6 separate regions of the Homo sapiens genome follow, and all the other regions are linked to region 6. The links come from fine-mapping of genetic effects on gene expression. A gene starts in region 6. Each other region holds a variant in brackets. All regions are shown on one strand. Distances are between the middles of the regions.

Region 1 (5,086 bases), 870 kb before region 6:
CATGACCGCTCTGTGGTTCACTCCAGATGAGAAGGAACGTTTCTGTTCCTCAGGAGTGAGATTTCTGCCTGTATCCTGCAGCAGGGGTTCCTCCGTAGCTGTCAGCTACAAATATATTCCCCCCTGGCACCTCAGCATGGTTTTTGTGCTGTTCATGGATGAGTCTCGTGGGCAAGTGTGTACAGACCCATGAGTGTGCCCATGTGGCTCGAGACATCTAAGAAGGTCCAGCCAGATGTTCTCAGTTAATGATGCCTGCTTAGTGGTGAAAAGCAGTGGTGGGTTTGGTTTTCTGTTTTTAATCTGCATACGTGAAGCCTCTATTCCATGTGGTCCCTAGAGAACACTGGATCTAATGAACGGAACATCTATATTGTGGTGGGTGTGGTGTGCACCTTGCTGGTGGCCCTACTGATGGCGGCCCTCTACCTCGTCCGAATCAGACAGAAGAAAGGTGGGTGCATTCCCCTCTTCCTCCCTAAGGGTTTGTCCCTGGACTGTCCTCGGAGGGAGACGCCATTAGGTGCTTTGGGTTAAGGACATCAGCTTCTGCCAGTAGCAAGAAGTCCAGAGGTAGTGGTGCTAGGGCTGGGGCAGTGGCCTCACCATGTTAGAGTCTGGGTGGGTCACTCTGTGGCTTCCCCCTCATGGTTACAAGATGTTCATCACTGCCCCAGGCCCCGTGTCCTCAAGGGGCCACTACTGAGCAAGGGAGCTGCCAGCCTGGGAAGAGAGGAGGCAGGGACTCTTCTTACCTGTCTCAGGGAGGACATCGTCTTTCCCAGGAGCCTCCCGGCAGACTTCTGCTTTCCTGGTACAAGTCTAGGTTACATGACCAGTCCCTGGACAGGAGGCCAGAGGGAATGGAGATAATAGCGCCACCATTTGATTGGGAGGACTTAACAAGTGATTGCATGGGAAATGTTAGGGAAGTAACCTGGCACACAAGTGCTCAATGTATGTCAGCCCTGATTATTACCCGTATTGTATGTGAGCCCAGAAATATGAGCCACCTCCCTAGAAAGCCCCCTCACAGGGCAAGGTGCATAGCCTTTGACTGCACAGCAGGAGGGCACAGGGTCAAACCCAGGACACCGCTTCCCCTTGTTTGTGTGCACGTGTTACGTGTGTGTCTGTGTGTGTGTGCTGGTTGTTGGGAGGGTTGGTTGTTGCTGTGGCAGGGCCTCTGACTTTGAAGTCAGACAAACCAGGGTTCCAGACCCTGGTTATATACTGTAAACAATCAATTTGGCCTCTACAAGCCTCAGTTTCCCCATCTGTAAAATGGGTTTAGCAACGCCTGTCTTGGAGAAGTTACAAGATCCAAATAAGCCCATGTGAAATAACGGGTCTGACACATTCTAGGATCGCCATAAATACATGTTCTCTTTCCCACTCTTGGAGAAGACAATTTTAAGCTGGTATTTCTGCAACCTTTTTTTATTACAAGAGATAGAAATACATTTCACATCTCAACCCAACACATACACACACCCTTTGTATATAAAATTAAAACTGATATTTTCTTTTTTGTCATATTCTTTTTTCTGTTTAAAATGCTGGTTGTGACCCACCGCCTCCAAAGGGACAAGTGCTGTCCCGAGCTGCCTTTCTGTGGCCTGGCACAGCTGAGCTTGGTTGGGCACATTGTACACTAATCACGCATCCCTTCAGTAGCTCCTTCACCTCTGCCTCCCAAGTTTCCCTCCCTCCTGGGCTGGCTCTGAGATACTGGCCAAGCCTGATGCTTCTGTCTGGGAGGGTTGGAGTCAGGCCCTGCTTCTCCAGAATCTGCAAGACGTCCCACCAAGACGTCTACCCAATGGGTTCCCTAAAGTTCCTGGAGAGCCCCACACAGGGAGGACTCCTCCTTGGATGGGGAAGCAGGTCCCTTCCCCACCAAGGGTGACAGCCCATCCCATGGGATGAAGCATTCATAGCAGCCGATAGTGAAATCCTGGCCATCCTTTCTGAGTCTCAGGCCCAGGCAGCACGCCAGCTCCTGGCACACGTGAGCTCATTACTGTGGGCTTAGGTGTTGCAGAGGAATGGAGTTTGCAGGGCTGCAGCTCTGGTAAAGGCCACCCAGCCCGAGTGGCAGGTCTGTGTGCAGAGCCTAGCTCTCAAACACAGGCTCCAGTGACAGGGACGGCTAGTATCCCCCAGCAGTTCCAATGTGCCAGGCACTGCTCACTGTGCTTTCCCTGTAGTAACAGTCAGTGCTCACCACAGACCTCATGGGTGACATTACTAACCCCACTTTACAGATGAGGAAACTGAGGCATGGGAAAGTTATAAAACTTGTTCAGGGCCTCACAGCCAGGAGGTGGTGGGGCCAGAATTTAAACCCAAGGACCATGTCTAGGACCACCTTGCACACTACCTCCCTCCGCCATAACTAGACCCCCCTTCTCCCTCATTAGGCCCTGGAGGGGTCTGCCCAGCCTCTCAATGCTCACAGTGAAATGTCCTGATTTCAACTCAACCACTACCCAGCTGTGTGACCCTGAGGAGTCACCTAGTCTCTCTGGTGTAAAAGGGGGTGACTGGTGTCCTATCACTGGATTCCCAGAGATGACTTGTGTCCAGCACTTTGCAACCTGTCAGCCTCCACTCAGACTTTCGGTGCTGAGCACAGCTTCCAACTGGTACACCTCATCTAAAGA[T/C]CCAGGACCTGCCCAGGCAGCAAGCGTTAACCCAGCAGCAAGAATTCTTGCACTGTGGCAGCCTCCAGCCTATTAAAGTGCGGTGCAGAGTGCATTTGGGTGTGCATGTTGCTTTTTAATTACAATTTTACAGCAAAATGGGAGTCAAACGGCTGCTGAACCCTGGAGGCTTCTCTGTGGGTTACCCCATATCACAGGTTTAAAACCTCTGAACCAGATGGACACTTTCTTTCCTTCCAAGATCCTTTTTTTGGAAAGTGGTGGCATGTAAATAAATGGATGCTCAGCCCAACCCTGCAAGTTATAGAAGCTGAGAGAGAGGAAGTGACCCACCCGGGGTCACATGGTGAGTGAGTGGGTAGCAGACCCGGGGTTCACACATGATCCCCGATTTGCAGCCCTGCTAGAATCTGTTTTCAAGCCACGAAGGGCACTGATTGGGACCTAGGCTTGTTGGAGGGTCTCCGCTGAGGTTTGTGGTTGAATGGAGGTGAGACCCAGACAGAGGTAGGGCGGTTGTCGCCTCCCAGGCTGAAGGCTGCTTTTGGACCCCTGGCAACTTCCAGAAGTGGAAAAGCAGGACCATCTAGCTTACTCCTTCCCAGGCTTCCTTGGTGGAAGAGGATGCCCACTGGGTGGGCATGGGGGTCTCCTGTGGTTCCAAGGATGTGATTACAGCATTTCCTCTCCATGTCCCTGGAGGCAAACCTTTTGCCAAAAAATAGTTACATAAGAAAAGTGTGCTTCTAGTTAAACAACTGGCTTTTGTTTCTTTTGTCTTTCAGCCCAGGGCTCCACTTCTTCTACAAGGTAAGTGCATCATTGGTCCAGACCCTCTTGCAGTTATTATTTGGTTATTTGACAGCCCCCCAGACTACAAAGCATAATCCATGTCCACTGACCTCACCAATGTGTTGGTCAACATGTCTCTTTCTCTCCTTTGTAACCTCCTCACACTGGGTCACGCTGTTTTTAATTATTGTCCCAAATGAGGGGTTTTTTTGGTGCACAGAGGTGCTAATTTCTTGCCTGCTCTTCCCAGACAACGAGACCCTTGTCTAATCCCATGTGGACTGGGGCAGAGACCTCCCGGGCTTTCTGTCCTCACAGACATCCTGCACACGCCACCGGATGCATCCTCCCAGATCCAAGTTGTATACTTTACTCTTTCCTTTGTTTAGTAAATATTTATTGAGTACCTTGGCGTGCTGTGACCCTGGAATGCCGGGATGAGTAGGATAGAATCTGTGCCCTCTGCAAGCTCACAGCCTGGTCAGAGGCTCAGACGGTGACATTACATCACTGATGTACGTCACCGATGGCACTTTAGTTTGTTGATTCACATTTTTAGTGACTTGAGTCCCTACTATGTGCCAGCCCTGCTCAGGACCAGCTGGTGATATAGCAGTAAACAAGAATCAGCCCAGGCTTTCATGGGGCTCAGACGCCGGTGAGAGAAACAGGCATAAACGCAGAAATAAAGTGATTCATGGTGTCATATCAGGTGGTGACAACTCCTACCCTGCAAGGAGATGGAGGTGAATGGTGGGGGGCTGTCTTAGGCAGAGGAAGGGACTGCCTCTGAAAAGGGGATGCAAACGGGTGCCTGAAACTAGTGAGCTATGTTGGACAGGAGCATGCTGGGCCAGAGAGGAGGCCTGTGTGCTGGGCCAGAGGGAAGGAGAGGAAGAAGATAAGGTCAGGAAGACCCAGGTCCTCGGCATCCCGGTGTCCTTTGCAGATGCCCCTGCAGTCAGAGGTGTTACGAACTATTCTGTGAAAAGCCTTTATCGGCTTTTTGGAAGGCCTCTGATCTTCATCCCCAGCAGAGCAGAGGCAGCACACCATCATCTGCCATGTGAACCCATCTGCATAGAACCATGTGGACATCCGTGCTAAGAGTGATAAATAAAACTATAAATAGCTTCATGTTGGTTCACACCAGGTTTTGCCAGCAACTGCATAGTGCCAATCTTTTGATGGTTTAGAGCTTTCTGGGTTTCAGAATTACAGAATAGGACATGATGATCTGGAGTGGGGCCTGTGGGTGTTAGAAGGACTCGGGATTTTATCCGCAGTGGGATGAGGAACCAAAAGATGGACACGATCTGACTTTTGTTTTAAAAGTGTCGCCTGGCTACATGTGGAGCCCAGACTACAGGAGGTGAGGATGTGTAGGTGACCATAGCGGTACTGGTCCAAGCAGAAAAAGATGGTGACCTGGACCAAAGTGGTGGGATGGGCTGAGAAGTGCTCAGATTCTGGATATATTTTGAAGGTAGACACAAGAGGACTTGCTGATAGATTGGCTGTAGGGTTAAGGACCACCTCAAGGTTGGGGGCAGTGGAGTGCTGTATCCTGAGTTGGGGGGTGCAGGTGATGGGTGGAGTGATGGGGCAAATATCAGGCAAAGCAGTTG
Region 2 (5,086 bases), 46 kb before region 6:
TACTCAGAGGGGCGGGGCGGGGCGGGGCTGAGGGTGTCCTGTGGGCAAGGGGGTGAGGAGGGGCTCCCGAGGGCCCCTTGGTCGCCCCCAGGGGCTGCCCCTCCGTCCCGCTGTCTCTCCCCCTGTCCCCAGGAAGTGCTGCTGAAGCGGGCGGCCGACTTGGCAGAAGCCCTGTACGGAGTGCCCGGCAGTAACCAGGTATGGCGCCTCCGCCCTCCCAGCGCCGCCGGGACCGGGGCCCCCCAGCACGCGGCGCCCGCGGCTGCCCCGGCCGTGCCCCGCTCTTGTCTTCGCAGGAGCTGCTCCTGAAGCGCGCGGCGGACGTGGCCGAGGCTCTGTACAGCACCCCCCGCGCACCCGGGCCGCTCGCACCCCTGGCCCCGAGCCACCCACACCCCGCCGTCGTGGGCATCAACGCCTTCAGCAGCCCGCTGGCCATCGCCGTCGGGGACGCCACCCCGGGGCCCGAGCCGGGTGCGTGGGCCGCGCCTCCCCGCCGTCCTCGGGCGCCGCCACCGCCCCTCCCCGGCCGGCACCGCCCCCTGACGGCCGCGCTCTCTCTCGCAGGCTACGCGCGCAGCTGCAGCAGCGCGTCCCCCCGCGGGTTCGCGCCCAGCCCCGGCTCGCAGCAGAGCGGCTACGGCGGCGGCCTCGGAGCTGGCCTGGGCGGCTACGGCGCGCCGGGCGTGGCCGGCCTCGGCGTGCCTGGGTCCCCCAGCTTCCTCAATGGCTCCACCGCCACCTCGCCCTTCGCCAGTGAGTGTCCCCCGCCCGCGAGGGAAGGTCTGGGGCCGGGGAGCGGAACGGGACTCAGCCCCGCCCCCGCCCATCCCGGAGAGGTTGGGGCGCCGGCGCCGTGAGAGTCGACCCTGGCTCAGCCCTCGGGGTCAGGCCCACCGTCCCCGCCTGGGACCTCCCCTGCCGCAGAACCTCAACCCCACCCCTAGGCTGCACATCCCGGGGTCCTGGGGCCAGAGTACTCCGTGCACTTTTAGCCTTCTTTGCCGGTCCGTTATGCACATCGCTTCTAGGCCTCCGGTCCCCCTGAAGTGGGCTCTAATGGGTGGCGGGCGTCCATCTGAAACCTGGGACACCGCCCCCTTCCCATCTCGCGCCCGGACTTGGGGAGGAGGCTGGCGCCGCCTGCCGGAAGCCTAAGGAAACTCAGGGCTCGAGGGAAGCCGGCTTCCAGCCGCCCCCCAGCTCCCAGGACTCCAGAGGCCAGGTGGGCGTGGGGAGGATGTGGTCCCCGCGATGTCGTCCGGCAGAGCGAGCGAGTTCTGTGTGATCAGACAGAATTTGAGTTTCAGTGTCCAAATCAGGAGCTGCCGGGCATTCAGCAAGTTACTTATTTGAACTTGTTTCCTCGCAGTCAAATAGGGTCAATTCCACCCCCTGCTTAAGGTTGATCTCGGATCTGAATGTGCCACTGTGCCTAAAGGGCCAGTGTGTGATTTCGGAGTCCCAGCCCTGACTGTGGGCGCTGACCACATCCCATCTGGCTTCTTAGAGTGGGGAGCTCAGAGCTGGGTGGACAGGCAATGTCTGCATGTCATGAGTGAGTGACCTTCCGAACGGCTTTGATGCCTTGTCATTTTACACTGCCCTCAAGACTCTTCCATCATCAAGTTCCAGATCAGCATGTTCACAGCTCTTTTTAGCTTAGCTATTCAGCAGGCATTTATAAAGCGCCCACTGTATGCAAAGCCCAGGGCTTGGGGGATCCCCCCACTCCTGTCACCTGCAAGAAGCCTCCCTATCAATCATAAGAGAGATTGTCCCTGAAGTCCCAGGCGACTCTGCCGAGCTGGAGAGGTGGTGAAGGCTGTCCCAGAAGGAACTGGTCATGGCTTTGCCCGTGGTGCCCTCTCCTCTCCCTGTCCCATATTTGCCATTGCCGAGACTGCACTGTCTGTCCACCAGCCTGGCTTTCCTTGCAGGGCGTGTGTCCTGCCTGCTTTCTGGCTGAAGGCTTGAGCCTGGCCCTGTCCTCTGGCCTGGGCTCAACTTCTGGGACCCAAGGCCCCATAAGCCAGAGTCCACATAGGCCATGGCCTTCTGGTGTCCCTCCCAAGGCCCCTGCCTCTCCTGGCTCTTTGCTCAGGCCAGGATTGACTGCTCCTCCTTCCCTTCAGTTCTGGGGCAGTACCCTCACAGCCTCTCTGTGGGCACCCCCTTGGGCCAACACTGGTGGGGGTATGGAACATCACATACACTGTGGTCAACAGTAGAGGAACACTCTGCCCCAGTGTGCAGAACCCAGCCCAGCTGGGGTCTTCTGATTCAGCAAGAAGATCAAGAATTCTAGAGCTGCTTAAACCCAGCATCAGCTGGAGACACACTGGACTTGAGGGAGGGTTGGTCCCATTTCATGATATTGTCTTGACCGAGGCTTACCCAGGTACCCTTCCACTCCCCACGTTCAGGGTGCTTTGTGGCCCGACTCCAAGGGGTGTCATTCTCATTGAGTTTGCGAGAACATTCCTGGAGTGACATCAGAACTGCCCCAGCCAGAGGCTCAGGGGCTGTTTGCTTGGGTCTCTCTTTGTTTTTCTGCTTCAGCCACCAGCAACCCTGGAATGAATCACAACTCCCCACACTACCTACCCAAGGTACAAAATGTGGCCGTGAGCCCTGGGCATTGAGAGCTATAGTACATTTTCTGGCATTGGTCTCAAGCCCTTCATCGGGCTCTGGGGCCTCTCCAGCTGGCAGTAACTGTTGTCTTAAAGGAGATGAGGCTGAG[G/A]GCATTTGGAAGAGGGGCAGCTGTTGAAGGCATTCTTGTATCAAGGGAGGTAGGAGGGCCCTCTGATGCCAAAGGCAGCCTTCTCAGGCTATTGCTTTCTTCCAGGAAGCCCCACCCACCCCACTGCCTGCTGCCTGGACAATACTCAGATCACAGCCTTACCAGTCTTTACAGGAGAGAGGCAGGGAATTGGGTTCAGATGAGGATGTAGAAAGGTGGGATCCAGCGATGCCCCAGGCCTGAGCCCCCAGGAGAGGAGGCTGCAGGAAGAGGGGGCAGGCAAAGTCTGTGTGCAGGAGGCTCCCTTGCCATTCCCAGGAGGGCAAGCCGCAGCCTGGGTGGCTAGGGAGTTTGAGAGCAGGAAGATCTGAGGATGTACATCCCTGCAATTTGCTTTAAAATTGACCAGCTGGAAGTGGGAGATTCAGGAGACCACCCCCCCCCACAGGGCCCAGGCTGGAGATGACAAGGACCTGCATTAAGCTGTAAGGAAACAAAGTACCCCAGGGTGCAGGGGGAAGTGGGAGAGGGACAGAGGAGCATAGGGAACATTGGCAAGGAGAGCATATTTGAGGAGGAAGTTGGAGTGCTGTTTGTGATGCTGGGCAGAGAGGCTTATAACAGGAGCCTGTGCGTTCCCCCAAACTTCATCCCTAACTACTTGTTCCAGCTCTTCTGTGACTCCTGAACTATGACTCTAGCCTTGGCACCCCAAGCAAGGCTCATAAATGTTTCCTAGCATCTCAGAATCCCAGGGGTTTTCAGCAGAAATCCTGAAGTAGTCCAGCTGTTGCTCATCTCATTTTTGGGGGGTACCTCCCACTGTTTGTTTTTTTTGAATGTTCTGGTTTTGCTTTTGTCTTTACCTGGTCTGGCCCTGTCATCCCCAGCCCCGAGAAAAGGTCTCCAGAACCGCTGAGAGGTCAGGGCTGGCCCAGGACCCTCACAGCTCCCAGTGAGATCTGAGCCTGGTACCTGTGTCAGCAGCCCATGTGGGGCCCCAGCCAAGCTGCTCACTCTGGTGCTGTCTCCCTGTTGTGTCTCCCACCACCTTCCCTGCTGCGCCTGCCCCTCCCCGCCCCGCCCCGGAGTCATGCCCTCTAGCCCCCCGCTGGCGGCTGCCTCCTCCATGTCCCTCCCGGCCGCTGCCCCCACCACCAGCGTGTTCTCCTTCTCGCCTGTCAACATGATCTCCGCCGTCAAACAGAGGAGCGCCTTCGCCCCCGTGCTGCGCCCCCCAAGCTCCCCACCCCAGGCCTGCCCCAGAGCCCACGGAGAGGGGCTTCCAGGTGAGTGATCCACCCTGCCTCACTGTGGCAGGAAGGAAGGGCCCTTGTGGAGCAGCTGGGCTACAGGGGCCTGCTCTGTCCACATCTCACCAGTGCCTCATGCTGGCTAACCTGCTCTTCTTGGAGGACGGAGAGCAGGGAGCTCTGCTGGGGTCCAGGGAGGTCCCTCTGGCCCCCTCTGCCCTGGCCTCCCAGCCTGGGATGGTCACCATTCTGGATGCTCTCAGTTGACCACTTGGCCAAGGGGAAGAGACTCAAATCACAGTTGATGAGGTCTAGAAACTACCCCAACACTCCATCCCCATCCAGCTGAGCCCAGAGCAAAGACCCTCAGAGCTGGTGGGCTGCACGCCTGTACCTGTGCCTCCCTGTGTCCACCAGAGGGTAGCACACACCACTGTGAGGGACTGGGTCGCTGACCATGGAAGGGGACTGACCTTAGAAGAGGCTTAGCCCAGCTTCCCTCCCCGCATTTTACAGATTAGGACTTGAGACCAAGTCATCTTCCCACATCCCATTCATGAAATGGCTGTTCTCTCACTTTACCCATGTGCAGCAGAACCTTTGAACCAGCAGAGCCTTTCCTATCCACGTGGTGATTGGAAACTCACTGGGAGGACAGAGGAAGGGACTGGCTGTGGAAAAGGAGGAGGCAACAGGATGTGGGTGGGGCAGAACAGGTCCTTGTTGATGGGGATGGTGGGGGCCAGGGCCAGTGTCTTCCCTAAGAGGCTTACAGGTGTTTTCTTTTCTGGCTAAGGGATGCTTCCACGGGATCCCCTAGGACTCAATCTGGCATGCAGCAGGTGTTTAATAAATAGTCAAATTATTGAATGAATATATGAGTCAGAAGGGCACCGTTCACACCCACACAGAAGGCTGCAGTGCAGTTTGTGGGGCACTGATCTGGAAGAGGTTGGGTTAGAGCACGTCCTATTGAGTATTCCCCAAGACAATAATGGGTCAGAGCAACAGAGCATTAGGAAAGAATCAGTGTTGAAATTACGTAAGTGGCTACTGAAGAATTTGTCAGAGCCTTTCATGTGCCAGG
Region 3 (5,000 bases), 320 kb after region 6:
AAGCCCTAGGAACACCGGCAGTTCCTGCCCATCCCACCGGCTTCAGGCTTTTCTCCTCCTGGAGAAACTGCTGGGCAGACATGAGCCACCTCGTGGCTCAACTGCAGAACTGCACGCTCCTTTTTTTTTTTTTTTTTTTTTTTGAGATGGAGCCTTGGTCTGTCGCCCAGGCTGAGAAGGAGTGCAGGGGTGCCATCTCAGCTCACTGCAACCTTCGCCTCCTGGATTCAAGCGATTCTCCTGTCTCAGCCTCCCAAGTAGCTGGGACTACAGGTGTGCGCCACCACGCCTGGCTAATTTTTTGTATTTTAGTAGAGACGGGGTTTCACCATGTTGGCTAGGAGATCTCCTGACCTCGTGATCCACCTGCCTCAGCCTCCCAAAGTGCCGGGATTACAGGCGTGAGCCACAGCGCCTGGCCTCCTTTCTAAAGGCCTCCTTGCTGGCCAAGAAAATAACTGGGGCAAGCAAACGCCAGCTTTGGACTGCTGCTCCCTGCCCCCCATTCCCTCCCCAGCGGCCTTAGTCTTCTCTTTCCCTAACTCCACCCTTCTGGGGACCCCACCACCCCCCAGAGGGGTTCATCTGCATTTTCTAGGTGTTCATGTCCTCTCTCTCCTGTTAAGTAAAACAAAGCAGTTTTTACCGAATAGAACTAAGACCCCACGTTGACCACGCCACAATTTAGGGGACCTTTAGTGTAGGATCAACAGAAAGCCAAGCCATGGAATGAGGGTGAAGGCCAAAGGGGTAGGGGGACAGCTGCCCAAGAAAGACCCCAGGGACCTGTGTGGCAGAAAAATTTGCAATGCTGTCTCAAAGAGGAGAATGGAAACTTTTGTCCACTGTTTGCAGGACACAGGACATCAGCTCAGGGCCTTGAAGGAGCCCTAGTCAGCGTGGTCCTGAGTCACCAAGTCTGTCAAGGCCAACAGGACTGAGACCTCCACAAACTGACGCTGAAGTCTAAGGACCTTTTTCCTTGTTCCACCCCACTGCGCCTCAGATGTTTCCAGGAGTTTCTGAAGGTCATGTTAACTAGAATTTACTCTTAAAACCAAAGACACAGAAATAAACGTTAAGCATAGTATTTGCATAGTCTTTTAGAAGAACATAGGAAACTAAAAGAATGATCAACCTAAACAGAATAATTTCCATAAGGAAAAAGAAAAGGTTGCCAGGCCAGGCACAGTGGCTCACACCTGTAATCCCAGCACTTTGGGAGGCTGAGACAGGCAGATCGCCTGAAGTCAGGAGTTCAAGACCAGCCTGGTCAACATGGCGAAATCCTGTCTCTACTGAAAATACAAAAATTAGCCAGGCGTAGTAGTGCGTGCCTGTAATCCCAGCTACTCGGGAAGCTGAGGCAGGAGATTCGCTTGAACTCAGGAGGCAGAGGTTGCAGTGAGCCATAATCACACTACTGCACTCCAGCCTGGGTGACAGAGCGAGACTCCATCTCAAAAAAAAAAAGGAAACGTGTCAAAGAGCTACCCTCCACAAGCACCAAGCACTGACAATCACAAGGACTTCTACTAGACAGGCAGAGTGGGTATTCCAATACTATTCAATTGTTCCACAGCACAGAAAAGAAAAAATTCTAAATTCTTTCTATGGAACAAAAAAATCATCAATGACACCTGACCAAAGATGGCACACACACACACACACACACACACACACACACACACACACTACAGTCCAACCCCACTAATGAATACAAAAATCCTAACACTAGCAAACAGAACCATTAAAATCTATTAACAGGGGCCAGGCGCTGTAGCTCATGCCTGTAATCCCAGAGTTTTGGGAGGCCAAGGCGGGTGGATTGCCTGAGCTCAGGAGTTTGTGACCAGCCTGGGCAACATGGTGAAACACCGTCTCTAATAAAATACGAAAAATTAGCCGGGTGTGGCGGCATGTGCCTGTAGTCCCAGCTACTCAGGAGGCAGAAGCAGGAGAATTGCTAGAATCCAGGAGGCAGAGGTTGCAGTGAGCCAAGATCGCACAAGTGCACTCCAGCCCGGGCGACAGAGCGAGACTCCGTCACTATATAGATAAATAAATAAATAACAGGGCTGGGCGTGGTGGCTCACACTTGTAATCCCAGCACTTTGGGAGGCTGAGGCAGGCAGATCAC[C/G]TGAGGTCAGGAGTTCAAGACCAGCCTGGCCAACATGGCGAAACCCCATCTCTACTACAAATACAAAAATTAGCCAGGCATGGTGGCGAGCGCCTGTAATCTCAGCTAATCAGGAGGCTGAGGCAGGAAAATCACTTGAATCCGGGAGGCGGAGGTTGCAGTGAGCAGAGATTGCGACACTGCACTCCAGCCAGGGCGACAGAATGAGACTCTGTCTCAAAAAATAAAAATAAAAATAAAAAAAATTAGCCAGTATGGTGCTGTGCGCCTGTAGTCTTGGCTACCGAGGCAGGAGAATCACTTAAATCCCAGCAGCAGAGGTCGCAGTGAGCAGAGATTGCGTCACTGCTGCACTCCAGCCTGGGCGACAGAGGGAGACTGTTTCCAAAAAAACAAAACAAAAAGAAACCATTAACAGGCCGGGCACTATCGCTCATGCCTGTAATCCCAGCACTTTGGGAGGCTGAGGCAGGTAGATAACCTGAGGTCAGGAGTTCAAGATCAGCTTGGCCAACATGACAAAACCCAGTCTATACTAAAAATACAAAAATTAGCTGGGCACGGTTGTGGGCACCTGTAATCCCAACTACTCTGGAGGCTGAGGCAGGAGAATTGCTTAGACCAGGAGGCAGAGGTTGCAGTGAGCCAAGATTGTGCTATTGCACTCCAGCCTGGGTGACAGAGTGAGACTCTGCCTCATAAAAATACAAAAATCAGCCAGGTGTAGTGGCTCACACCTGTAATCCCAGCACTTTGGGAGGCCGAGGTGGGTGGATCATGAGGTCAGGAGATCAAGACCATCCTGGCTAACACAGTGAAACCCCGTCTCTACTAAAAGTATTAAAAAAATTAGCCAGGTGTGCTGGCGGGCGCCTGTAGTCCCAGCTACTCAGGAGGCTGAGGCAGGAGAATGGCGTGAACCAGGGAGGCGGAGCTGGCAGTGAGCCAAGATCGCGCCACTGCACTCCAGCCTGGGCGACAGAGCGAGACTCCGTCTCAAAAAAAAAGAAAAAAAATCAGCCAGGCGTGTTGGCACGCACCTATAGTCCCAGCTATTCCAGAGGCTGAGGCATGAGAATTGCTTGAACCCGGGAGGCAGAGATTGAAGTGAGCCGAGATCACACCACTGCACTCTACCCTGAGTGACACAGTGAGACTCCATCTCAAAAAAAAAGGAAGGAAGGAAGGAATTATTTAGGTTGAATTACACAGAAGTTTGTCACTGATCTGTGTTCTCGAACTAAGAAATATGAAGATGGAGGCTAAGAAATCATTTCTCTTAATATTATAAATAAGCAATTAACAAATACCTTGGGAAAAATAAGAATACAATAGAAGTGAGGAGTGTGACTTTCAAGATTACATTCTAAAAGATGGATTTCCCTCGTCTGTGCACTCTCTCTGGAACGCACAGCTCCCACACAGTACACTGCCCTATGGAGAGGCCCACAAGGCAAGGAACCGAGGGCAGCCTTGGGCCAACAGCCAACCAGCAAGTGAGGCCTCAGTCCAACAATGCATCAACGAGCTGAATCTTGCAACAATGATGTGGGTGAGACTAGAAGTAAATGCTTCCCCAGTTGATCCTTGAGATGACCACAGCCTCAGCCACCAGTTTGATGGCAGACTTGGAAGACCCTGAAGCAGAGAATCCAGCCAAGTTACGCTGGGATTTGTGATCCACAGAAGTTATGAGACAATGAATGTTTGTTGCTGTAAGCCAGTAAGTTTTGGGGTAATTTGTTACCTAGCAATAGATAACCAATACTTCTTTAACATGATAAAAACATCTATCTCAGGCCAGGCGCGGTGGCTTATACCTGTAATCCTAGCACTCTGGGAGGCTGAGGTGGGCGAATCACCTGAGGTCAGGAGTTCGAGACCAACCTGGCCAACATGGTGAAAACCTGTCTTTACTAAAAATACAAAAAATTAGCCGGTGTGGTGGTACATGCCTGTAATCCCAGCTACTTGGGAGGCTGAGGCAGGAGAATTGCTTGAAGCTGCGAGGCGGAGGCTGCAGTGAGACGAGATTGCGCCATTGCACTCCAGCCTGGGTAACAGAGTGAGGCTCCATCTCAACAACAACAAAAAAACATCTATCTCAGCCTAAGATCCAACATCCAGCTTGCCCTGAGGTATTCACACTGAACACATTCAGCTGCAGAGGTCACCCAGTGAACCAGGGCTGCTCACCTCAGGAGAGAGCAGCATCACCGGCCCTAGAAATCACTGGCAATGCCCCAGGGAAGAGGCAGGAAGCCAGGATCCTTAAATCTCATACTCAAGAATGTTGCAGGCCAGGCACAGTGGCTTGCAGATCCCAGCACTTTAGGAAGCCGAGGCAGGTGGATCACGAGGTTAACAGGTTGAGACCATCCCGGGCACCATGGTGAAACCCCTTCTCTACTAAAAATACAAAAATTAGCTGGGCGTGGTGGCGCGCGTCTGTAATCCCAGCTACTCCAGAGGCTGAGGCAGGAGAATCACTTGAACCTGGGAGGCGGAGGTTGCAGTGAGCCAATATCACGCCACTGCACTCCAGCCTGGTGACAGAGCGAGACTCCATCTCAAAAAAAAAAAAAAAAACAGAAGTCGAGTGCAGTGGCTTACATCTGTAATCCCGGCACTTTGGGAGGCCAAGGTGGGTGGATCACAAGGTCAGGAGATTGAGACCATCCTAGCTAACAAGGTGAAACCCCGTCTTTACTAAAAATACAAAAACTTAGCCAGGCGTGGTGGCGGGCGCCTAATCCCAGCTACTCGGGAGGCTGAGGCAGGAGAATGGTGTGAACCCGGAAGGCAGAGCTTGCAGTGAGCCGAGATCATGCCACCGCACTCCAGCCTGGGCGACACAGCG
Region 4 (5,086 bases), 160 kb after region 6:
CCAGAGTGAGAGAGCAAGACCCTGTCTCAGTAAATAAAAATAAATAAATAAATAAATAAATAAATAAATAAATCAGCCATAATTTATTTAATCATGTCTCTCTCCCCCATTGATAGACGTTAAGGGTATTTCCAGTATTCTTCTCTTGAAAACAATGCTACATTGAATAACCTTGTACATGGGTCACTTTGAAAGTATGGATATGTATCCGTGGAATAAGTTTCCAGAAGTGGAATTGTGTCAGAGGGGTTGTGCATTTGTAATTCTGATGAATATTTATAGATTATATGAGAGTACCTGTTTACTCAAACTCTTGCCAATGCAGCATTATCAAAGTTTTTTATGTTCGCCAGTGTGATAGATTAAAAAATGGTATCTCAGCCAGGCGCAGTGGCTCACGCCTGTAATCCCAGCACTTTGGGAGGCTGAGGCGGGCAGATCACGGGGTCAGGAGATCGAGACCATCCTGGCCAACACAGTGAAACCCTGTCTCTACTAAAAATACAAAAAATTATCCAGGCGTGGTGGCGGGCACCTGTAGTCCCAGCTACTCGGAAGGCTGAGGCAGGAGAATGGCATGAACCTGGGAGGCGGAGCTTGCACTGAGCCGAGATCGCGCCACAACATTCGAGCCTGGGCGACAGAGCGAGACTCCGTCTCAAATAATAAAAAAAAAAGATGGTATCTCAGCATTGATTTCTTTGATCATCAGTGAGGTTGAGCATCTTTTCATAGATTTAAGAGAACTGTATGGTTTTTTGTGAGTTATGTTTCATATCGTTTACCCATTTTACTTTTAGGCTGGAAGCAGCTGTTTTAGTGGAATGGTGGAACAAGAAGCCAGATTGCCATGGAGAGACAACTCTTTCTAGAGATTTGGCTATGAAGCAGAGTAGAGACAATGATAGCTGAAGGATTGATGTAGATGCAAAGAAATTTTTCATCTTCTTTGAAAACTTAATTGTGTTAAAAACTGGTATGAAAGGGAGGGGTTAAAGCTAGAGATGGTGGTAGAAAAAAATGCAGGGTTCCTAAAGGACTGAGATTCCTGGATGGAATTTCAGGGAAGGGGAAAATTTCTGGATATAGTGACTGGGGAGTTAAGGGTGTCTAGTCCAATGGCTTTTATTTTCTTGGAAGGGTAGGCAAGGCCAACAGCCACATGTGTGGGAGGAGATGGTTAGAGGGGAGAGGAGGTTTGAAGGCACCGCTATGGAGAATTGGAGAGAGCTAAGGAAAGACAGAAAGACTGCAGAAAGTGCTTAGGGTTCCACTGAAGCGGAAATAGTGATTTGTAGTGATACAACCCTTATGAGTTATTTGATTTTTTTTTTTTTTTAAGCAGCATCTGGCAGTCCAAGTATAGGGCTGACAGTTTGGGATTTTTCTTTCCATGTTGGTGTAAAAGAAGAACAGTGTAGTGAAGGAAGTTAGGACAAAAGAATGATTGAACTGACACCAAGTTTTCTTGATTTGGTAGAAAAGGAAATAAAGATAGAGCAGAGATATTGAAAAGAATTAGAGAGGGGTTCAAGAGACTGAAGGCCTGGGTGAGGTCAGAGAGCAGGTGTGGTAGACATAACAGAGAGAACTACAAGGATAGAAAGTGTGGTTGGAGAGTGGGAAGGCAAGATTTATTCAGTATGGGGGCTTTTCTGGGTGATGACAGCATCTGGAGTACAGCCATTGTCGTGAGTGGCCCAAGTGTAGCAGAGATAAAGCGTTGTTGGAGTGAAGGAAGTCAAGGAACTGAGAGGCTGGCCTAGATGGGGATTTTGGTTGTCATCCATGAGGATATTGAAGTCATCCAGGAGAATAGCAGGCCTGGGGGACAGGAAGGAAACTGAGCCACTTACAGTGTCTTCAGTGATAGGAAAGCACAGGGCAAAAAGCTTTCAAGAACAGGGACTGTTAAGCCGGGTACAGTGGCTCACACCTATAATCCTAGCATTTTGGGAGGCCAAGGCGGGTGGATCACTTGAGGTCAGGAGTTCAAGACCAGCCTGGCCAACATGGTGAAACCCCATCTCTACTAAAAAAAAAAAAAAAAAAAAAAAAAAAGAAATACAAAAATTAGCCAGGCATGGTGGCACGCGCCTGTAATCCCAGCTACTTGGGAGGCTGAGGCAGGAGAATTGCTTGAACCTAGGAGGCGGAGGTGGCAGTGAGCCTAGATCACACCACTGTACTCCAGCCTGGGCAACAGAGCGAGACTGTATCAAAAAAAAAAAAAAAAAAAAAGAACAGGGACTGTTAGAGCAGGCTCCAGGAGAAATGCTTTGCATATGGCATTCTTGAGGAGTGAGGAGGACCTCAACCCTACTTCCTGAAATGGAGCTCTGAGATGTTGGAGTAGAAATTTGGAAACCAGAGAGAGAAGTAAGGATAGTGTTGTTGCAAATGCATTGTATATGGGGGGTCGGGAAGTCACAGGAGTTTGCCTCAAAGTCTTTCTCGGAGACGGATGAGGTTTTCACTGTGATTTTCCTGGTCGTGGTCTATGGATATAGTACCTGTTAGTGACATGGATCTTCTTAACTTCTGATGTGTCTTTTCCTCCCTAGTGTACGCATACCAATTCTCTCCACAGCTTCCATCACCATGCATTTGTTCTTTTCCCTTGTTCTTGTATTACCTTTCTGGAAAGGAATTTTTATTGTAGGCTAATTGTTACTCCCACCAGTATTTAACCACTGGATATTTCATATGATTGATCTCTTCTGATTTGGAAAATAAAAATGTAATCTCATTATATTCATTTGATTAGTGGGGACAGTCAACACTTCTTTGTGTATTTTCTTAGCTGTTCGTTTTTCTCGTCTGTAAATTATCTGTTTAGGTCCTTCAGATTTTTCAAAATTGGACTGTTATGTTTTCAGTATTGTTATGAGTTCTTGTTTCAATTATTTATGACAGTTCATTTTCTTTTTTAAAATAGACTTTTTTTTTCTTAGAGAAATAAGAAAAAATAAAAATTAAAATAGACTTTGTGTTTTAGAGAGTTTCA[G/C]GTTCACAGCAAAATTGATCAAAAAGTATGGAGAGTTCCGGCCAGGCGCGGTGGCTCACACCTGTAATCCCAGCACTTTGGAAGGCCAAGGTGGGCAGATCACAAGGTCAGGAGTTTAAGACCAGCCTGGCCAATATGATGAAACCCCATGTCTACTAACAATACACAAATTAGCTGGGTGTGGTGGTGCACACCTGTAACTGTACCTACTCAGGAGGCTGAGGCAGAAGAATCTCTTGAACCTGGGAGGTGGAGGTTACAGTGAGCCACAGTCATGCCCCTGCACTCCAGCCTGGGCAACAGAGTGAGACTCCGTCCTAAAAAAAGAAAGAAAGAAAATATAGAGCATTCCTAAATACCACCTGTCCCCAACACCTGCACAGCCTCCTCATTATCCACATCCTACACCACTGTGGTACCTTTGTTGCAATTGATGGACCAACATTGACTCCTCATTATCACCCAAGCTTTGGTGTTGTACATTCTGTAGATTTGGACAAATGTATAATGACATGTGTCTACCATTGTAGTATCATACAGAAGAATTTGACTGCCCTGACAGTCCTCTGCTCCACCTGCTTACTCCTCTCTCCCTTTTCCTAACTGCACAACCACTGATTTTTTTTTTTTTTTTTTGAGACGGAGTCTCACTCTGTCCCCCAGGCCGGAGTGCAGTGGCGCCATCTTGGGTCACTGCAAGCTCCACCTCCCGGGTTCATGCCATTCTCCTGCCTCAGCCTCCCGAGTAGCTGGGACTACAGGTGCCCGCCACCACATCCGGCTAATTTTTTGTATTTGTAGTAGAGACGGGGTTTCACCATGTTAGCCAGGATGGTCTCGATCTCCTGACCTCGTGATCCGCCCACCTCGGCCTCCCAAAGCTGGGATTACAGGCATGAGCCACCACGCCCTACCTTTTTTTTAAAAAACAAGGTCTTGCTCTGTCACCCAGGCCTGAGTGCAGTGATGATCACTCCTCACTGAAGCGTCGACCTCCCAGGCTCAAGTGATCCTCCCACCTCAGCCTCCTAAATAGCTGAGACTACACACACACACCACCATGCCCAGCTAAGTTTTGTATTTTTTATAGAAATGTGGTCTTGCTGTGTTGTCCAGGCTGGTCTTGAACTCCTGAGCTCAAGCAATTTGCCTGCCTTGGCCTCTCAAGGTGTTGGGATTACAGGCATGAGTCACCGCACCTGGCCTTTTTTATTTTCTTTTTTTTTTTTTAACCAGTGATCTTTTACTGTCTCCATGGTTTTTCACATTGGCTTCTGTCACTTAGTAATATATGTTTAAGTTTCTTCTACGTATTTTCATGTTTTTAGCTTATTTCTTTTTAGCAGTGAGTAATATTTCATTGTCTGGATGTGCCATCACTTATTTATCCATTCGCCTGCTGAAGGATATCTTGATTGCTCCCAGTCGTGGCAATTATAAATAAAGTTGCTGTAAACATCCATGTGCAGGTTTTTTTTAAGTGGCATAAGTTTTCATCTCATTTGGTTAAATACCAAGGAGCACAATTGCTGGATCATATGGTAAGAGCTTATTTATTTTTTTGAGAGACTACCAAGCTGCCTTCCAAAGTGGATGTACCATTTTGCATTCCCACCAGCAGTGAATGAGAGTTCCTGCTGCTCCATATTCTTACAAACATGTAGTATTGTCAAATGTTTTGGATTTTAAAACCAAAATCCATTTTCATAGATGTGTAGTGGTATCCCGTTTTAATTTGCAATTACCTAATGACTTGATGTTCTGTGTCTTTTCAGATGCTTATTTGCCGTACTGTTTATCTTCTTTGGTGAGGTGTCTCTTCAGGTCTTTTGCCCATTTTTAATCTGGTTGTTATTTTTCTTGTTGAGTTTAAGAATTCTCTGTCCTTTGTCAGATCTATCTTTTGCAAATATTTTCTCCTAGTCTGTGGCTTATCCTCTGATTCTCTTGGCATTGTCTTTCACAGAGTAGACATTTTATATTTTAATGAAGTCCAGACTATCAATTATGTTCTCATGGATCATGCCTTTGATGTTATATCTAAAAAGTTCTCGCCATACCCAAAGTCATCTAGATTTT
Region 5 (5,086 bases), 150 kb after region 6:
CCCAACCCCCATTTTTCTCCCATTTACCTTCAGAAAAATTAGTGATTTGGCTACCAGTGAATCTAGGCTCCAGGTGTAGCTCTGTAGTTTTGGACTAGTTACCTAATTCTTCATTCACAACAAAACAGAAGGAGAGAGGAAAAAGAGAGCAAACATGGAATTGGGATGGGAAGTAAGAGAGCACATGAGGAGAGAGACTATGTCAAGTTTCTTCGTATTCCTTTTTTAATTACAGAAGAAAAGATGGGATAAAAATATTCCATCTTATTTCTCTGTTTAAAAGAAAGAGTAGGCCGGGCATGGTGGCTCACACCTGTAATCCCAGCACTTTGGGAGGCTGAGGCAGGCGGATCACAAGGTCAGGAGTTTGACACCAGCCTGACCAACATGGTGAAACCCCATCTCTACTAAAATTACAAAAATTAGCCGGGCGTGGTGGCGCATGCCTGTAATCCCAGCTACTTGGGAGGCTGAGGCAGGAGAATCGCTTGAACCCGGGAGGCAGAGGTTGCAGTGAGCCGAGATCACGCCACTGCACTCCAGCCTGGGCAACAGAGCGAGACTCCTTCTCAGAAAAAAAAAAAATAATAATAATAAAATAAATAAAAGAAAGAGTAAATGAATCAAAATGAAGAGAAGCCATTTTATCTGCCTCCTGGATGAAGAGTTTCATTGATGAACCTGAAATGTTTTGGTTAACATGAGAAAGGAGGGTGAGAAGATGCCTGAGATGTGAGCTCCTTGAGGACAGGAGCTGCTTTCTCTCTCCAGCCTGGCACAAGACAAGGAACTTAGTTGAATGAATGAGCAAATAAGTGGTTCTCTGCTTTGAAGGAACTTGGACTGTCATTACCTTGCAAATCAGGTTTACCATTTATTTGCTTTATATAAGTTCCAGAAAGAAACTATTTCCTCTCATAATATTACTACCCTAAACTTCTGGTCTGATCTATGGATTGTAGAGCTTAAATTTCCTCAAACCCCAACAGTCAGAGATTGTTACACCAAGATAAATAGCATATTTCTCAGCGCCTTGTATTTTCTGTCTTTGGCCACAGACCTTAGGACTTAGGCTGATATTTGAGAAGGAAAAACTGGAATTTAGTAGAATTATACTTCCTGTATCTTAATTTTCCAACTCTTATATAAGGTTTGCTTTTTCTAGAGAGAGACTAATCTGGAATGAGAATGAATTCTCATCAGTAAAGGCAAAGCTTTAAGTGGGTCATCTGACTTTGCTTTTGTGCTCTACATTCACCCTGCTCATAAAAGGTCCTTTCATGAGTTTTCTAGGCTTTCATCACTGCCAGCGTCTCCACAGGCATTGTGAAAGTATTAAACTTCCTACCCTCCCCCATGCTTGTCTCATGGACTCTTTCGTAGAGTGCACAGTGGACTGTGTTTAGCTCAGCAGGAACTCTTTGCAAACACTGAATACATGAACAACCCCCCTGGAAAGATAAGAGATTTCAGTATTGCTTGGTGTCATAGCCGCAGAAGTTAGTGTCTGCCAGTATCTGATGAATATGGTGACTTGCAGCCTAATTTTTGTGAAATTATGAGGCCAAAGTTTAAGAAGTGTTCATGTTAAAGTTACTTATATATAAAATTTGCCTATCGATAATTTCTGTCAATAGGAGGTTGATGAATGCTTCACATAACCTAGATACTCCTAATTAACTGTTTTTTATTTCTTTTTTTCTAGGACACATGTTCAAAGAGCATAATTAACTTTTTAAAAGAAGCTAGTAAGTACTGAAATAGTTTTTTAAGTTTTTTCTACAAGAATAGAGGAAGAAAGGAAACATGGAATTCTGAAGGGCTACTTAGCAAGCTGCTTATGGCATAATCTGGGGTGGGGGTGCATAGTAAAGGATTTGCATTTTACTGAGACCGATACATGTCAAGGGAATGGTATTTAAAATTAGTGATATGTGTTGATTTTTCAAGGACTATAGCCCATCAACTACAATAGGCTCCAAAAAATTCTGGTGAAATTAGCTTCTTGGAGCCTTCCAGTTTACCTACTATGTTATTCCCACTATAAAATATTCTCAACTTTTGGGGTTTTAGCCACTTAAGTTTTTTATTTTCTCTAATGTCTCTAGTATCTGCTTTAGTTTCCTGTCAATGCTAGACTCTGTGGTTCAGCAGTTCATCCATTCTCTTCCCAGTACTCAACCTCGTTGCTTATAGTTTCATTACATTCATCTAGCAAAACCTTAATTCTGTATGTTTGCCATACCATTAGTGCTTAGAGCATTTTTTCAGAAAAGAATCCTGGAAAAATGGATCTTATCTCACCTGGGCCCTCAGGACTGCTGGGCTGCCTGGTGTCAGCACTTCCCGCCATTTTCTATAGCACCAGTATTATTCTTAATACTTTAAAAAACCACCAGGCACGGTGGCTCACGCCTGGAATCCCAGCACTTTGGGAGGCCAAGGTGGGCGGATCACAAGGTCAGGAGATCAAGACCATCCTGGCTAACAC[A/G]GTGAAACCCTGTCTGTACTAAAAATAGAAAAAAATTAGCTGGGCGTGGTGGCGGGCACCTGTAGTCCCAGCTGCTGGGGAGGCTGAGGCAGGAGAATGGCGTGAACCCGGGAGGCGGAGCTTGCAGTGAGCCGAGATTGCACCACTGCACTCCAGCCTGGGTGACAGAGCGAGACTCCGTCTCAAAAAAAAAAAGTAAATAAAAATAAAAAACCATATCCCACTATCTCCCCCTTCTCTCTTTGCCTGTGATCTTGCTGCATACTTATGGGGAAATCTTTAAGATGTCAGATTTCAGTTCTCTCACTTTTCTACAACTTCTCCCACTTTTGCCTTTCTTATGTACCTTCCCTTCCTTCCCATCTGATTCCTTATCAGTATTTACACATGATTAGTTCTTGCCTAACCTAATAGACCCTTTCTTGAGTGCAAATCAGTGGCTATTTTTGCTAGGGTATAAAAATTACCTATCTAATCACCTTGACAAAGTTACCCTGTTATTTCCAATAACTTACTTCCTATGGATTCTTGTAGATTTTCTTTTTTTTTTTTTTAATTTTTTTATTTTCAGATGTTTTCTCGCTTTGTCACCATGCCTGGCCTAAATTCTCGTAGGTTTTCTATGTAAACAATCAGATTTTCTGCAAGTATTAGTCTCCTTTCTAATTGTTATAATTTTAATTTCTTTTTCTTTTTAAAATTTTTCGTAGAGACAAGGTTTTGCTATGTTGTCCAGCCTGGTCTTGAACTCCTGGGCTCAAGCAATCCTCCCATCTCAGCCTCCCAAAGTGCCATTACAGTGGCATGAGCCACTGTGCCTGGCCAAATTTCTTTTCTTGTTGCGAAGGCAGACTTTTCATACAATACTGAATAGAAGTGATAGTAGATTACTTTATTTCTGATTTTCAAAGGAATGCTTTCCGTTTCTCTCTGTTGAAGATAATTGCGTATTGTTTTTTTTTTTAAATAGTAACTTTTATCAGGTTAAGGAAGGTTTCTTCTATTTCTATTTAAAAGGATTTTTTAAAATCTTGAATTCATATGTTTTTATCTAATGCATTTTCTACATCAGTTGAAATGGTTGTATGAACTCTTTTAATATGGGTGAATTATATTTATAGATTTTATGTTAAAATATCCTTGTATATCTTGGATAAACTCAACTGGATCATGATTTATCTTTTTTATATGCTAGATTCAATTTGTTGATACTTTGTTATGATTTTTGAATATATATTATTGTGTAAAAGTGAGCCTGTGATTTTCTTTCTTGTAATGTTTCTGTCCAGTTTTGGTGCCTGGTTTTGCTCTCTCCTTAGAATGAGCTGGGAACTAGTCACTCTTGTTTTCTCACCTATAATAGCATCTGGGTCCAGTGTTTTTTATGTGGGACAAATTTGAACTTGTGGTCAACCTCTTTAATTGTAAGAATATTCAGGTCTTTTGTTCTTCCTGGGCTAGTTTTTTATTCTTTTTCTAGAGATTCGTTCATTTTTCTTAGTTTTATTTGCCTATAATTGTGGATAATCTGTTTTTTATCTGCTACTTCTGTAATTATTTCCACATTTGATTTATAATATTAACTTGTGGGCCAGGCGTCGTGGCTCACACCTGTAATCCCAGCACTTTGGGAGGCCGAGGCGGGCGGATCACGAGGTCAAGAGATCGAGACCATCCTGGCCATCATGGTGAAACCCCGTCTCTACTAAAAATACAAAAAAAAAAATTAGCCGGGCGTGGTGGCAGGCACCTGTAGTCCCAGCTACTCAGAAGGCTGAGGCAGGAGAATGGCGTGAACCCAGGAGGCGGAGGTTGCAGTGAGCCGAGATCGCACCACTGCACTCCAGCCTGGGCGACAGAGCGAGACTCCATCTCAAAAAAAAAAAAAATTTACTTGTGTCTTCTCTTTTTACCTGTTTGTTAATTTATCAAATAACTACTTTTGGCTTTGTTTCATTTTTATTATACAATAAAATGAAATTCTTTTCATTGTATTTCTTTTCATTGATTATTCCTATAATTCTTAAACAACTTTATAATTGATGTAACAATAACCTGTACACATTTAAAGTGTAAAATTTATTACATTTTGATCCATGTATATAGCAGGGAAATATCACCACAACAAGAGTGTGAACATATAATCTCTCCCCAAAGTTTTCTTGTGTCTTTTATAATCACTGCCTCTTGCCCCTGCCCACTCCCTCATCCTTAAGCAACCATTGGTCTGTTTTCTGCCACTATAGATTAGATTGTATTTTCTAGAGTTTTATACAAGTGAAATCATGTAGTATAGTATTAACCATGTGTTTGTTTGTTTGTTTGTTTCTTTCTTTCTTTCTTTTTTTTTTAGACGGAGTCTCGCTTTGTCACCCAGGCTAAAGTGCAGTGGGGCGATCTCGGCTTACTGCCAGCTCCGACTCCGGGGTTCACACCATTCTCCTACCTCTGCCTCCCGAGTAGCTGGGACTCCAGGCGTGCCCGCCACCACGCCCAGCTAGTTTTTGTATTTTTAGTAGAGACGGGGTTTCACCATGTTAGCCAGGATGGTCTCGATCTCCTGACCTCGTGATCCGCCCACCTCAGCCTCCCAAA
Region 6 (5,086 bases):
CTGCCGTGTGCCACCCTCTTGACAACAAGCCACACCCCCCTGGGAAGCCTAAGCTGGCGTCTATTCCTTGTCCTCAGAGGAGCCTCAGCCTAGCCTGGACTGGGTGCCCAACTCCCAGCATGGAGGCCCCAGCCACAGTGGGACCACTCACTGCGTCCATCCCACTGCTGTGGTTCCTACTTCCCCACCAGGTCCGACTGTCATTGCTGAACTGGACCTTGTATGATGTGACCCAGTCATACCTGGCAGGAGAGGTGGAGAGAGATCATCGGTGCCCCCAGGACTCCCACCCCAGTCCTTCTGTGACCTCCTGACCTAGGGTTAGTCTGCCTCACCTCCAGACAGAGTTCCTGCCCTGTGTGATAACACCCGAGAAGCGGGTGGGGTGCCCAGCGTCCACCTGAAACCATGGATCGGCGTCCTGCTCCTCAGCACACCAGGCTCCATCATATAGATCGCCGTCCTCCAGGCCTGACTGCAGACACAGGACATGGTGGTCAGGCCCAGTTGGACAGAGTGGGGCAGGCCAGGACAGAGAGGAGGCAGGAGAGAAGCTCCCAGGGGCTGCCTTCCCTACCCTGAGACCATGGCTCCGAGCCAGGATTACTGACCTGAATGTTGAGCCGTCCTCGGTGTGGTCCAAGACCAAAGGACTGGCTGCTGGATGCCTCAAGCCGGCTATCTGAAACTCGCAGGGACTCCAGACCCAAAGGAGGACAGCCTGGGGCGGGGATAGAACAGTGAGACAGGACCAGAGGGAGGGTAGCCAGGGCAGGTGGGAAGCTGAGCCTAAGGTTGCTCCTGCGCTAGGCAAGCAAGGGGCGTGCCGGTGCCCATGAGGCCAAGAGCTGTGCTGGTAAAGTGCCCCAGGGGCTGCAAGTCTGGGCTGGGCCCCTGGAGAGGAAGTACCTGTTTCTTGTTTCTCAGCGGGGTCGAGGGTCCCTGCTGGAGTGGGGGTCACAAGGGGCCCGGCAGTCACCAGTGGGGTGGGGCGAGTTAGAGTTAGCTTCTTCCGCTTCTTCATAATGACCTTTTTCTTCTTGATGACTCGAATCCGGACATGCTGTTCTGAGGTCCCTTGGGGTCCGAGAGGCACAGCATGGGGGAAAGGAAGAATGGTGAAACCCCGGATGGAAAGGTCTGCCAGCCCAAGAAGACATGTGAGCCCACAGCAGGCCACACCACCAGGATCTAACAGCCTTCACAGGACATCAAAGGCCTGCAATCTGACCCCAACCTGCCTCTCCAGTCACTTCCTTGGCTCCTCCTTCTCCTCCCTGATGTAACTACATGCTTGGCCAGCCTCCCCTGTGAACCTCTAATCCAATGGAGAGCTGCACCCAGCCTCTAGAAACTGTTCGGTTGCTCCAAAGAGCTGAGTCTGGCACTTTACCTCCGGGCCTCTGCACTAGCTATCCCCTCCCCTGTAATGCTACCCCTCGCCTCTGATTTTTTCACCTAATTCCCATTCTTCCTTTGCATCTCAGCCCAGATGCCTTTCCAAGGAGGCTTTCTTAGCTCCAGACTCAGCATCATGCCCCAAAACCCCTGTGCCGCTTCCATTGTTGTGTCTGCTCTCTGGGCTCAGATGGCCTGTCCTGGAATCCATGTCTGCCTGGGTGTCGAGGCTTTCAGGGCTGGGCCTGCCCGCCGGCCCTTCAGCACAAGGCTCTGCCCAGGCAGGTGCTGGGGGTACCCATCGAAGCTCCACAGCTGCCTCCAGAACAGGCTGCCCATTTCCGCATCTGGTGCCCCTGTGCCTTTGCCCGCCGCTTCCTTCTTGGCAGCCCTCTCTCTCTCTCTCTCTCCAGACTCCCCTGACTCGGGGACATCACCCTTCAAGACCCTCCTCCACTTGCCTCCTCTAGAAGCCCCTGAGTGCCCTCCGCTTGCGCTCCTCCTCTCCTATTCCACATCTGGAAAGCTGGGAGGTCGGGCTGCCTTCCTCTCCCGCTCTGCCCCATCCTCCCGGCAGCCTCAGCGAGGGGCTCTCCCTTCTTTCCTTTTGTTCTTTCTCTCCAGCCCTCGCCTTCAAACTCTCTCCTACGCAGTCTTGCTCTGCACCTTGAGAGCTTCTGCCCCTCTGTCTCCCCTCCTGCCAGTTCTGGCCTGTTTTGTCTTTGGTGAAAAGGGAAGGTTTGGGGCTTGGAAGAGGCAGCATCCCACTGGCGCCTGTCCTGGGACTGCTGACTAGGTCTGGCAGGGAACTGGGGCTGCCGAGTCAGCAGCCATTGCTCCCAGCAGGGAGTTGAGGGAGTGTGAGTGTGTATATGTGTGTGTGCACTGTGAGTGTGAGTGTGCGCGCGCGTGCACTGTGTGTGCGCGCACGCGCGTGTGAGTGTGCGTGTGTGTGCATGCGTGTGAATGCGCGCGCGTGTGAGTGCAAGTGTGCGCGTGTGTGAATGTGTGTGAGTGCGCGCGCGTGTGTGCGCGTGAGTGCGAGTGTGCGTGCGGGGTGAGTGTGCATGACTGTGAGTGTGCGTGGGTGTGCGTGTGCCCGCGTGTTAGGGAGGGATCGCCCCACGGGGCAGGAGAGCCGGGCAGTCGGCTTGCGGGGGAGCGGACCGTCGGTCGGGGAACTCACCGTTAGCTGTCTCCGCCGGCGGCTGTGCCGGGCTGCTATGCAGGGCCGGGGTCGAGCCTGGGACCTTGGTGGTCCCGGGCTGCGCGAGGCCCAGCACCGAGTTCCTGGGCGCCCCCAGAGCCGGGCCGACGGCCGGCGCGAAGGCGGCCAGGGCGAGCAGGAGCCCCCACATGGCGGGGATTGAGTGCCAGGGGCGCGCGGGCTACGGCGGGTGGCGGGTCGGTCTCTTCCTGCCGAGTGCGCCGAGCCCCCCGCCCCTTCCTGCCCCCCGCCCCTCCGCAGCCTCCTGCCCGCCCACAGCCCGCTGCCCGCCTCGGACCTCGGAGAGGAGGAGAGGGCCGGGAGGAGCGAGCGGGGCTGACCTCCAAGGGGCCGCCCCAAGTCTCAGGACCGCCGACTCTGCCCTTCCTCTCCGCCGTCTGGGGCCAACCCGCCTCGTTGGCGCGCTGCGCCTTTATAGTCTGCAAAGCCACACTGAAGAGACCAGAGATCACCTGGTGGCCATCAAGTCGACCAACAGGAGGCAAAGCCCCTTATCTGAGCAATTCAGAATGACACTTCCCTATTGTCTAAAGCCACATCTGGTACCAAGCTTCCGTCCCAAGAATTTATAAGTAACTAGAATTTCTGTACGTTTCCGGAATGAGTGCACGTTAAGACCCATTGTGCAAACTTTGCTGACATCAAGGCACCAAAATATCGACAAATGTAACCATTTACCATGACCTAAGTGACTAATGTGGTCCAAATTACCCTGCAGTTCCCCGCAGGGAGCTCAGTCCTCTCTTGCTGAAGCGCCTACTGCGCTCTGCTGCCTCGTCCTTTCCGTCTAATAAAACTTTCCTTTTCAGACCTACACGGTTGTTGATAAGTTCTTTTACCACCCGGGAGCCAACCACTTCCCGGTTCCGGAGCTCTGACACCTCGCCTGGCATCTTGGTGGCCCATACGGGGACTTCACTGGGATTTCCCTCTTCCTTTTTCTCTCTGCTTCCTTCCACGGTCTGGTTCTTTACTCTTTGGGGAACTGCCGGTCCCGGTGGAGGCAGCTCTTCTGTGGGATCCTGAAGCCCTAGAGAAGGGATACCTGGCTGTCCTTGCCCTTAGGGGTGAGGGACTGGCCAGGGCTCTTTTCTGTTTTCGGACTGCCAGTGAACCAGCTTGAGTTCTCGTTGGCAACTGACAGTTTCTGGCCAAGCGCCATCCCCCGGTATTACCCCAAGGCCAAGACAAAAGAGCTATTGCCTGTCAGAGTGGCAGGGCACTTTCATTTTAACACTCCATAAGCCTTGTCCTGGAAGCGGTGGATCTCAATTCTACACAGGGATGCCTCAGGGATCTTGTAGTTCCTTGTCTAAACCCAACTTCGGTTCAATTAATTCAGTTCCATCCAACTCGCCCTTGGATTGCCTCCTTAAAAATGGTCCCATTGGTCTCATTTTGACCCACAAACTCTTAAAAATAAGCATATAAGGCTGAGCACAATGGCTTATGCCTGTAACCCCAGCACTTTGGGAGGCCAAGGCAGGCAGATCACCTGAGGTCCGGAGTTAAAGACCGGGAGTCTACTAAAAATGCAAAACTTGGCCGGGCACAGTGACTCACACCTGTAATCCTAGCACTTTGGGAGGCCGAGGCGAGTGGATCACCTGAGGTCAGGAGTTCGAGATCAGCCTGGCCAACATGGCGAAACCCTGTCTCTACTAAAAATACAAAAAAAAAAAAAAAATCAGCCAGGGGGCTAATTATATGTGGCGGGCACATATAATCCCAGCTACTAGGGAGGCTGAGGCAGGAGAATCACTTGTACCCCGGGGGCGGAGGTTGCAGTGGGCCAAGATGGCGCCACAGCACTCCAGCCTGGGCGACACAGCAAGACTCTGTCTCAAAAAATACAAATAAAAAATAAATAAGAGTTTAAAAAGCATATCCTTTTTTCTAATATTGCTTGGGTTCAATACAAGCTCCCTAATCAATCAATTTGGCCAATTAATGAAACTTGGGATTGCAATGCTACTTTACAACTTAACTGATTTTTTGCCGGAACCTTGGAAAGGATTCAGAAGTCCCATATGTTCAGGTCTTTTTTGCTTTATCCCCAAATCCAAACCCAAAATTACATACAAATTGTCATGTATGCTTCCAAGGAACGTCCTCCCTTCCCGGTTCTGATGTCTTAGATGATCCTTCCTTTTGCCTATTACATCCTCCTCAACCTGCTCACTCTTCACCTACACCCTCTCCATCTGCTCCATTCCCTAGTCAATCTCCCACCCACATACCCAAATACTTTCTCCCCTTCACATACTCTCAGGGGAGTCACATATGCTACTAGTACAGAGTCCTCAGAAAAATCCCCAAAATATTTTGCCTCTCCCTAAGGTGGCTAATGAAGATTTGGGAACAAGCCAAGTTCATGTCCCTTTTCTGATCATGTCTGATCTTTTGCAAATTCAATCCAAGTTGGGTTCATTTAGTCAGGATCCCTCTAAGTTCATTCAA

Direction of the effects. Positions count from the first base shown, and alleles are read on the strand shown. Sizes are in standard deviations (SD) of each study's normalised expression. Not every link is listed here.
In carriers of allele G in region 2, the expression in thyroid of the gene that starts at base 2,811 in region 6 tends to be lower than with A alone (moderate effect, 0.46 SD a copy in GTEx).
For the expression in iPS cells of the gene that starts at base 2,811 in region 6, G is the low allele of the variant in region 5 and A is the other (moderate effect, 0.73 SD a copy in iPSCORE).

The links.
Region 1: its variant is fine-mapped to the expression of CPXM1 in thyroid (GTEx, PIP 0.96).
Region 2: its variant is fine-mapped to the expression of CPXM1 in thyroid (GTEx, PIP above 0.99).
Region 3: its variant is fine-mapped to the expression of CPXM1 in aorta (GTEx, PIP above 0.99).
Region 4: its variant is fine-mapped to the expression of CPXM1 in whole blood (TOPMed, PIP above 0.99).
Region 5: its variant is fine-mapped to the expression of CPXM1 in iPS cells (iPSCORE, PIP 0.95).

Annotation. Positions count from the first base shown.
Region 1 is chr20:1,924,424-1,929,509 of GRCh38, forward strand. It overlaps SIRPA (signal regulatory protein alpha), which reads left to right. Exons shown (of 8, transcript NM_001040023.2): 5 at 341-454; 6 at 3,452-3,476. Among named protein-coding and RNA genes, the nearest start is that of PDYN-AS1, 20 kb to the right of the region's middle. The variant T/C (reference allele first, on the strand shown) is at 2,667.
Region 2 is chr20:2,751,790-2,756,875 of GRCh38, forward strand. It overlaps EBF4 (EBF family member 4), which reads left to right. Exons shown (of 17, transcript NM_001395167.1): 12 at 133-198; 13 at 297-474; 14 at 568-756; 15 at 3,838-4,035. Among named protein-coding and RNA genes, the nearest start is that of CPXM1, 46 kb to the right of the region's middle. RefSeq lists a silencer at 436-615. The variant G/A (reference allele first, on the strand shown) is at 2,747.
Region 3 is chr20:3,115,634-3,120,633 of GRCh38, forward strand. All of the region lies in intron 3 of UBOX5 (U-box domain containing 5), which reads right to left. The region is part of intron 5 of UBOX5-AS1 (UBOX5 antisense RNA 1); the gene reads left to right. Among named protein-coding and RNA genes, the nearest start is that of UBOX5-AS1, 11 kb to the left of the region's middle. The variant C/G (reference allele first, on the strand shown) is at 2,141.
Region 4 is chr20:2,956,625-2,961,710 of GRCh38, forward strand. The region is part of intron 3 of PTPRA (protein tyrosine phosphatase receptor type A); the gene reads left to right. Among named protein-coding and RNA genes, the nearest start is that of GNRH2, 84 kb to the right of the region's middle. The variant G/C (reference allele first, on the strand shown) is at 3,008.
Region 5 is chr20:2,946,277-2,951,362 of GRCh38, forward strand. It overlaps PTPRA (protein tyrosine phosphatase receptor type A), which reads left to right. Exons shown (of 24, transcript NM_001385305.1): 3 at 1,706-1,748. Among named protein-coding and RNA genes, the nearest start is that of PTPRA, 75 kb to the left of the region's middle. The variant A/G (reference allele first, on the strand shown) is at 2,492.
Region 6 is chr20:2,797,817-2,802,902 of GRCh38, forward strand. CPXM1 (carboxypeptidase X, M14 family member 1) reads right to left here and starts at 2,811. Exons shown (of 14, transcript NM_019609.5): 1 at 2,585-2,811; 2 at 910-1,077; 3 at 612-721; 4 at 336-475; 5 at 152-242. The coding sequence starts at 2,756. RefSeq lists enhancers at 393-1,380, 1,381-2,368, 2,369-3,354.